Homo sapiens: one gene and its partner. Changing the gene in region 1 together with any one later gene gives a genetic interaction. Each region holds a gene or a part of one and is shown on either strand. Other genes may lie near its edges. The genes, in order: VPS4A and NSMCE1.

Region 1 (3,357 bases):
GGCAAGAGAGTTAAAAGCTGCTTCACTTGGGCAATGGTGAAGGTGGGAGGTTGATTGGGGCAAATCCAGGCACTCCCCATGTCAACAGCCAGACAGGGCTCCAGGGCTTGTCCCAGTCAATACAGAGTTCCCTCTGCTGTCTGGCCGTCTGCCAGGGAGCCAGAAGGAAGGGCCTTGCAGCCACAGAGACACTCCACTGCCCTGGGGCACACAGTGGACACTGCTCTTCCTACTTCCTCCTCTCCTGGATGCTCATCAGCTCCTTCTGCCTCCCCCCCTTTTTTTTCCATCTTTTGTTCCCCTAAATTAATGCTGCTTGGATTTTCATCTTATTTATAAAGATAAAATCACCTGGAAGTGTCAAGGAGTGGGGCGGGGTGGCGGGGGAGAAGCAGCCGTGCTGCCAGGTCACCCAGACCTCCAGACAGCCGGCTAGCCCCACTGCCCGTTCCTTTTACGCCCAAGTTTTGCTCCTTGAGAGCAGATTGGCTGATGCCCCTGCAACCCCAGCCCAAGCTCTGCCTCAAAGACCGAGTGACATAAGCCATTCCCACCCTCCTAGGTTCACATCCAGGGCTGTGTCTTCCTTGGGGGAGGAGATGGTGTCGTTTAGATCAGGGTAAGGCAGTCAGGCGGGTGTTCACCACTGCCTTTTCTTCCTCTGAGCGTGAGAACACTGAACCCAGCCACTGCCCCTGGGTCCCTGTCCTGGAAATGGTCTAATAAATCCTTTTCCCTTCTTGAGCTACCCAAGTGATCTCATCTTTCCTTGACTCTTAACTGAGACTCTGAAGGGCCACCCTTGCTTCCAATTAAAAGACCCTCTGGTTTTCTGTCTCCTCTCTTTTCTAAAGCAGAGCAGGAAACAGAACACTGCAGTTCTTAGGCCTGTTCTCCAGTCAGGTGTGCAAGGCCTCCTCCCCTTAAGGCCTCAGAAGTTTGGCTGGGGATGTTTGTGGGATCCAGACAGTTCTTGCCGTTGTTCGGCCTACAGATCAGAGACTGCAAAGTGGGAGCCCTGCGTACCAGACCCGTCCTGCAGCTGTGTTTGTTTGGTTTGGTCTGCCGCTAACATTTAAAAGTCGAGAGTTGCTGGGCGCGGTGGCTCACGCCTGTAATCCCAGCACTTTGGGCCGCTAACATTTAAAAGTCGAGAGTTGCTGGGCGCGGTGGCTCACGCCTGTAATCCCAGCACTTTGGGAGGCCGACGCGGGCGGATCACAAGGTCAGGAAATCGAGAACATCCTGGCTAACACAGTGAAACCCCGTCTCACTAAAAATAAAAAAATTAGCCGGGCGTGGTGGTGGGCGCCTGCAGTCCCAGCTACTTGGGAGGCTGAGGCAGGAGAATGGCGTGAACCCGGGGGACGGAGCTTGCAGTGAGCCGAGATCGCGCCACTGCACTCCAGCCTGGGCGACAGAGCAAGACTCTGTCTCAAAAAAAAAAAAAAAGTCGAGAGTTGACATAAAAATTCAGAATTCTGACTTCTAGAAGATTAAATTAGGTAATGTTGGGCCTGCGTCCTCATGGGGCAGCCTGTCAGCGGCCACTAAGTAGAGGCTGCTCTGTACAGAAGGGGTCCCCCATCCCCACTCATCTGTGTTGCCTGCCCAGATAGCCCCATGGCCATTTCAGTTTGCGACCCCCAACAGACCAAGGACCCAGAGCTGGCAGCCCTGGACCCACGTCCGGCAGGCAGTGAAGCTGCAGAGGCTGTCCCACGTTTACCCCATGCATATAAACAGACCAAAGTCAAAGCACATTCACACAGAAAGACCTGGCCTAGTAAATGAAGCTTATAGCCTGCAAAGGGCTTTGTTCCAACCTTCCCTCTCCAAAACCCAGTACTGCTCCTCTACCTTTCAAACCTGGTTGGGCCAGAACTGATTACATGGCCAACTCTTGGCTCACACTGGGCTTGCACTGGGCCATTTCTTTGCTCTGGTTCAGAGCCTCTGCAGAAGTGAGCTAACTTTGGATCAGTAGCTCCAACACTTGGCTCCAGTGCTGGCAGGTTACCCCTCAACCATAGCAGCTGGGATCTTTGTGGCTTGGGGGTGCTTGTGTAAGTTCTTGGTTATGTGCCCTCAGCCACCAGGATATGAACCGTGTCTGCAGAGCTTCACTTTAGTGAGCTTACAAGTTTTTAAATTTTTACTTCTAGTTACATTTACTTGAATCAGAACGTTGTTTCCTCATTCCTACTGCTTAAACACCTTGACAAGTCCTAGGGGTTAACAAAGGTTAGCATGGCTATGGTCCATCCCTGTGCTCTAGTTAGAGCGTGAAGACACCTGACTTTCCAGTTGTCTCTCTCCATGACCAGCAACAGGAACCACTGACGCTGAACTTTGGACAGTGGCCTCAGACTCTGGCTGCCAGCACACAACCTGCCATCATCGATGTTAAACATGCTGACATGTGCAGAGGAGTTTCCTCCCTGAAATGCTCTGAAATTCACTTCTCTGCCTGGGGATTCTGTTATAAACCTTCTGCCTACATTGGCTTTCACTGTGGAAGTTGATTTCTAAAACTCTGATGAGCTCACAACGTTGACATGTATATGCGTTTTTTGTGAGTGCTTCCTGCTCAAAGTGGGAGAGATTTTACTGGAAATGCAATAAAGTTTGCATTTTATTGCTACCGATGCCCACCACAAAAGCGTTAACCTCAGAAAGCTATAAGAAGCATCAAAAGATTGCCATAGCCCCCTGTAAGAGCTTCTGAACATTGTCCAAATGAAAGGAGGCTCAGCTGAATTCTAATTTTCCTAAAGACCCATGTTTTTAGCATCTATGAGCTTTCTACAAATCTCCCCATTGGCTGCATCTCTGACCTTGCACCAGTATCTGGTTGGGATTCCCTTTTTTTTTTTTTTTTTTTTTTTTTGAGACAGAGCCTTGGTCTGTCGCCCAGGCTGGAGTACAGTGGCGAGATCTCAGCCCACTGCAACCTCTGCCTCCCAGGTTTGAGCGATTCTCCCGCCTCAGCCTCCCAAGTAGCTGTGATTACAGGCGCCTACCAGCACACCCAGCTAATTTTCATATTTTTAGTAGAAACAGTGTTTCGCCATGTTGGCCAGGCTGGTCTTGAACTCCTGACCTCAGGTGATCTGCCTGCCTTGACCTCCCAAAGTGCTGGGATTACAGGCATGAGCCACCAAGCCTGGCCGGGATTCCTTTTCAAAGTCTGGCTGCACCTAGAGCCAGTTTGCTTCTGCTTGGCCTCATGGGGCCTCAGAGAAAGCCACAAAGGAGGATGGGTCTTTCCTGGGTTCATTTAACTGCCATTTATAACACTTTTTCCTCTAAACAGCTTAATGGACTTCCTACTACTTGTATAGTTTGATTTTCAGG
Region 2 (3,812 bases), about 42 Mb from region 1:
ACTGGACCCTCACAGAAAACACCTGGAGCTGGCAATGTCCCCATCCTGCAGATGAGGAAACAGTCTCCGCAACGAGAAGCTGCTCACCACAGGCAGCGGAGGAACCTGGAGGAGTCTCACCACACAGCCCCTGCCACATTAGCTTCGTTCCTTCGTCCTCCTGAGGGCCCCAGCAGGCCAGGCAGTCAACAAGAAGCCTCTCTAGGGCTACTGCCCAGCGCCAGTGCTGAGGGCCCCCTGCTACTTCTGCAGCGCTCCTGCAGGTGGCAGCTCCCGGATCCTCTGTCCACCCTCCCTCGAGCTCAGAGGCGCCCTGCAGAAGGTGGTGCCAGCACTGCCACCGAACTGAGAAAGGCACAGAGTACAAGCGCCTGCAGCCACAGCTCACCGCCACAGACTCCAGGGCGGGGCCTCTCCTATCCACCACCGCCCTCTCCAGACACCAAGGGCAGACAAAGGGCAAGTCAAACCATAAAGCTGGGGGCACGCCCTGCAAGCCATGCACAATGGTGGCAGCATGTGCTAGGCATGGTGCTCTTGGGTGCAAAGCAGGGTGCAAAGTGTTGTGTACTGGGATGTTGGGGCACTCGGCTCTAGGGTCTGGGATAACAGGTGACTTCAGTGGGTTTCTTTATGCATCTCAACATGTTCTAATCCTCCTGTAATGAGCAGATATTTCCTGTAACATTTTTTGTAAGTTTTAAATGCTGTTCCTCTGCAACCTCATCCACCTGTCCAGTCATCCATTCAGCAAGCATTTATTGAGCAGTTGAGGTGCCAGGCACTACATTCTGCAATGGGGACCAGCCATGAAGAGGTCATAACCCCTACCCTTAAAAAACTTGGCCTGTGGCCGGGCACGCTGGCTCACGCCTGTCATCCCAGCACTTTGGGAGGCTGAGGCAGGCGGATCACCTGAGGTCAGGAGTTCGAGACCAGCCTGGTCAACATGGAGGAACCCCGTCTCTACTAAAAATAGAAAAATTAGCCGGGTGTGATGGCGCATGCTTGTGATTCCAGCTACTTGGGAGGCTGAGGCAGGAGAATCGCTTGAATCCGGGAGGTTGAGGTTGCGGTGAGCCAAGATTGCACCATTGCACTCCAGCCTGGGCAACAAGAGCAAAACTCCATCTTAAAAAAAAAAAAAAAATTGGCCTGAAGAGGGGCTGCACCACAAGCGAGAATGGTCAGTTATAACCTGAGTAGCCCTAGAACATTCCCTAGTGCCAAATACAGCCTGGAGGGCAAGAACAACTGTGACAAAGCCATTGATGGGAGCTGCAGTCCCCAAACCGGGGCCTGAACTCGGCCCTGCCACTCTCAGGGTGTCCGACGTCATCCAGACCCCTGAGCTGTCAGCTAAAAACTAAGCTATGGAGCCACTGCAGGGCAGCAGACAGCCTCCAAGACATGACATACGGGAACGCGCCCAGCAGATCCTGCACTCACCAGGAGCTCCCAGCCCTGCCCTCACCCCATGACCTCTCCACCCTGTCTTCCCATCAGGTACCCCAGGAACTGAATTCGGGTCAGGTTCCTGGGACAGGCCCACCCTAAATAGAAATCAGTAACTCAGAACACAGACTTCCCCAACCCAGACGCGAGCCTTCCTGAAAAGGAAGCGGAGAATCGCTGCAGCCACAAGCAGCAGCCTCTGGCCACGAGTCCGACCACCAAGTGAGGAAGCGGGGACCCGGCGTGAGTGCGTCCTCAACACACATGGGCACAAGCACCTGGGAGGCACAGCTGTGGTCAACTCGGCAAACACTGAGCTGTTGAAAACAGGGGTGCCTTTTGTGGAAAAAGAACTGAAACATTTGTTCTGCTCCATTCAGCAGGACTAGACGTGGGGGTGGGGGCAACATCTAGAAACTGGAGCTGCAGTGGGGCCTGTCCCAGATGTCACAGCTCCTTTCCTGAAGCAGGTCTATGCCTCTTCTAAGCACTGGCCCTGAGGAACTCACTGCTGACAAAAACAACAGTGGTAATGTCACCAATTCCTCTGCCGCCTCCCCCGCGAGCCAGCCAGCCTAGCACCGAGCACATTACTGTGAGGTCCCATTCCCGCTCCTGACACACCCAGCCCCGAAGGGGAAACAACGACTCCCCTCTTACAAGGAACATGAGGTCACCTGGCTCAGGGTTCAGACCCGGGTTAGATGTTAGAGCCACACTCTCAGCCACGGAACTGCCCTGCCTTGCAGTCTGTGGGCTAGAGCCTTGATCCTGGGGCCCAAGTCCCTGGGCGCGGCTCCTGGCTCTGCCATTCTGGCTGTGGCATCCTGAACACATCATCTGGGTGAACGGGGAGTGGGAGGCAGGAGGAGTGAGGCCCAAGTCCTCCCCACGGGGTCACTGCTGGAATGCATGAAAGCAGATAAGGGATCCGAGAAGGCCGGGCTCCTCAGACATCAGTTGGCTACAAGTACGATTTTGGAGAAAAAACTGTTATTCACTTGAAAAAGTGAACCAGGCTGGAAAAACCATGAGACAGTACCTCAATCAGCCACTTGTTTTGAACAAACTTCTGCAGCACCTGCTCCGCTTCCTTCTTCCTCATCTTCTTGCCTTTAAGTTGATCAACCAGGTTCAATATGTTTGTGGAAGACGCAAAGCCGGTTTCTGAGTCAATAATCAGTTCCAGCTGGAAGAAAGAGCAGGTATCATGCTCATCTATTAAAATGGCAAAAATAACTTTTAAATGGTAATACCAAGTCTGGCAGAGGCACAGTAAAACCACTCAGATCACAGGCAGAACTGTACACTGGCATGGTATTCCGGGAAAACAATTTAATGTGCATCAAGAGCCAGGACTGTGCTCAGTTCTTTTGACTCAGAGGTCACTTCTATAACATCCTCCCAAATAAATCATCTTAATGTCCCCAAATCAAAGAGGGTCGCCTTGCCTCACGGCTGGCCTCGGAGGCAGTGAGAGAGAGACACGGCAGGCAGGAACCGCTGGGGAAGACAGGTTCCTGCACACGCAGGTGTGTGCTCAGCTCAGCACCTGCTCCTCAACCTTGGTGGCTAATAATCCCCAGGAGAAGATCTAAAAGGAATGATTCCACCGCCTGGTTCTCAGAGATTTGGATTCAACAGATCGTGAGTGGGGCTGAAATGTCTGAATTATTTTTCACCTCTGCAGTTATTATCATTGCATCTAGGCCTGAGAACCACTCTTAGCCATGTGTTTGAGCAGAAGGCTGAGCAAATAGCTCTGAAGCCTGGTAGAACAGTACCTGTCAAATGTGCACGTGCAAAGGATTCAGTGGGCACCTGGCAAAAATGCAGATTCGGACTCAGCAGTCTAGAGTGGGGACTGGGACCGGGCCTTTCTAACAAGCTCCCAGGCGATGCTGCTGCTGCTGCCTTTCCCAGATGGCACTTGGAGCAGCCAGGCAGGAACGCCTGTTACTACCAGTGAAGCCCTGCTCTTGCCCATCCAGTTGGGGCTCACACCTGGCCCAGCACTTCCTTCTCAGGCAGCCATGGGGACCCCCTGGCAGCTGTGAGTTCCAGATGGGTAGACAGTGACATCTCCCTGCAAAGCCTTTTCTCAGACAGCAATGGTGGCCCATGTCCCCCCAGTGATCCTTGAACACTGCAGTTGCCACTGCTAATGACGGAGACAGAACTTTCCCATAAGAAGCCCACCCAATGGGCAATGGGGATTACTCTACTTACAGCCTTTCTAAACAAATCCAGTTCATTCTCTGCAAAATCCGTAGCCATTTTGGAAATTGAAGTTGTAGCAAGATTCACCTAAGAAATAAGTCAGCACGACAGTCAGGCTGTGCTCTTTGCGTGTTGGT

The links.
Region 2: changes in VPS4A (region 1) and NSMCE1 together harm fitness more than expected from each alone (negative genetic interaction), as found in Homo sapiens cells (one large-scale study listed by BioGRID).

Annotation. Positions count from the first base shown.
Region 1 is NC_000016.10:69,324,296-69,327,652, forward strand, and holds the end of VPS4A (vacuolar protein sorting-associated protein 4A), read left to right. Parts: coding exon 1-14; 3' UTR 15-2,644; downstream 2,645-3,357. UniProt on the Homo sapiens protein: Involved in late steps of the endosomal multivesicular bodies (MVB) pathway. Recognizes membrane-associated ESCRT-III assemblies and catalyzes their disassembly, possibly in combination with membrane fission.
Region 2 is NC_000016.10:27,230,504-27,234,315, forward strand, and holds part of NSMCE1 (non-structural maintenance of chromosomes element 1 homolog), read right to left. Parts: intron 3,763-3,812; coding exon 3,685-3,762; intron 2,645-3,684; coding exon 2,498-2,644; intron 1-2,497. UniProt on the Homo sapiens protein: RING-type zinc finger-containing E3 ubiquitin ligase that assembles with melanoma antigen protein (MAGE) to catalyze the direct transfer of ubiquitin from E2 ubiquitin-conjugating enzyme to a specific substrate.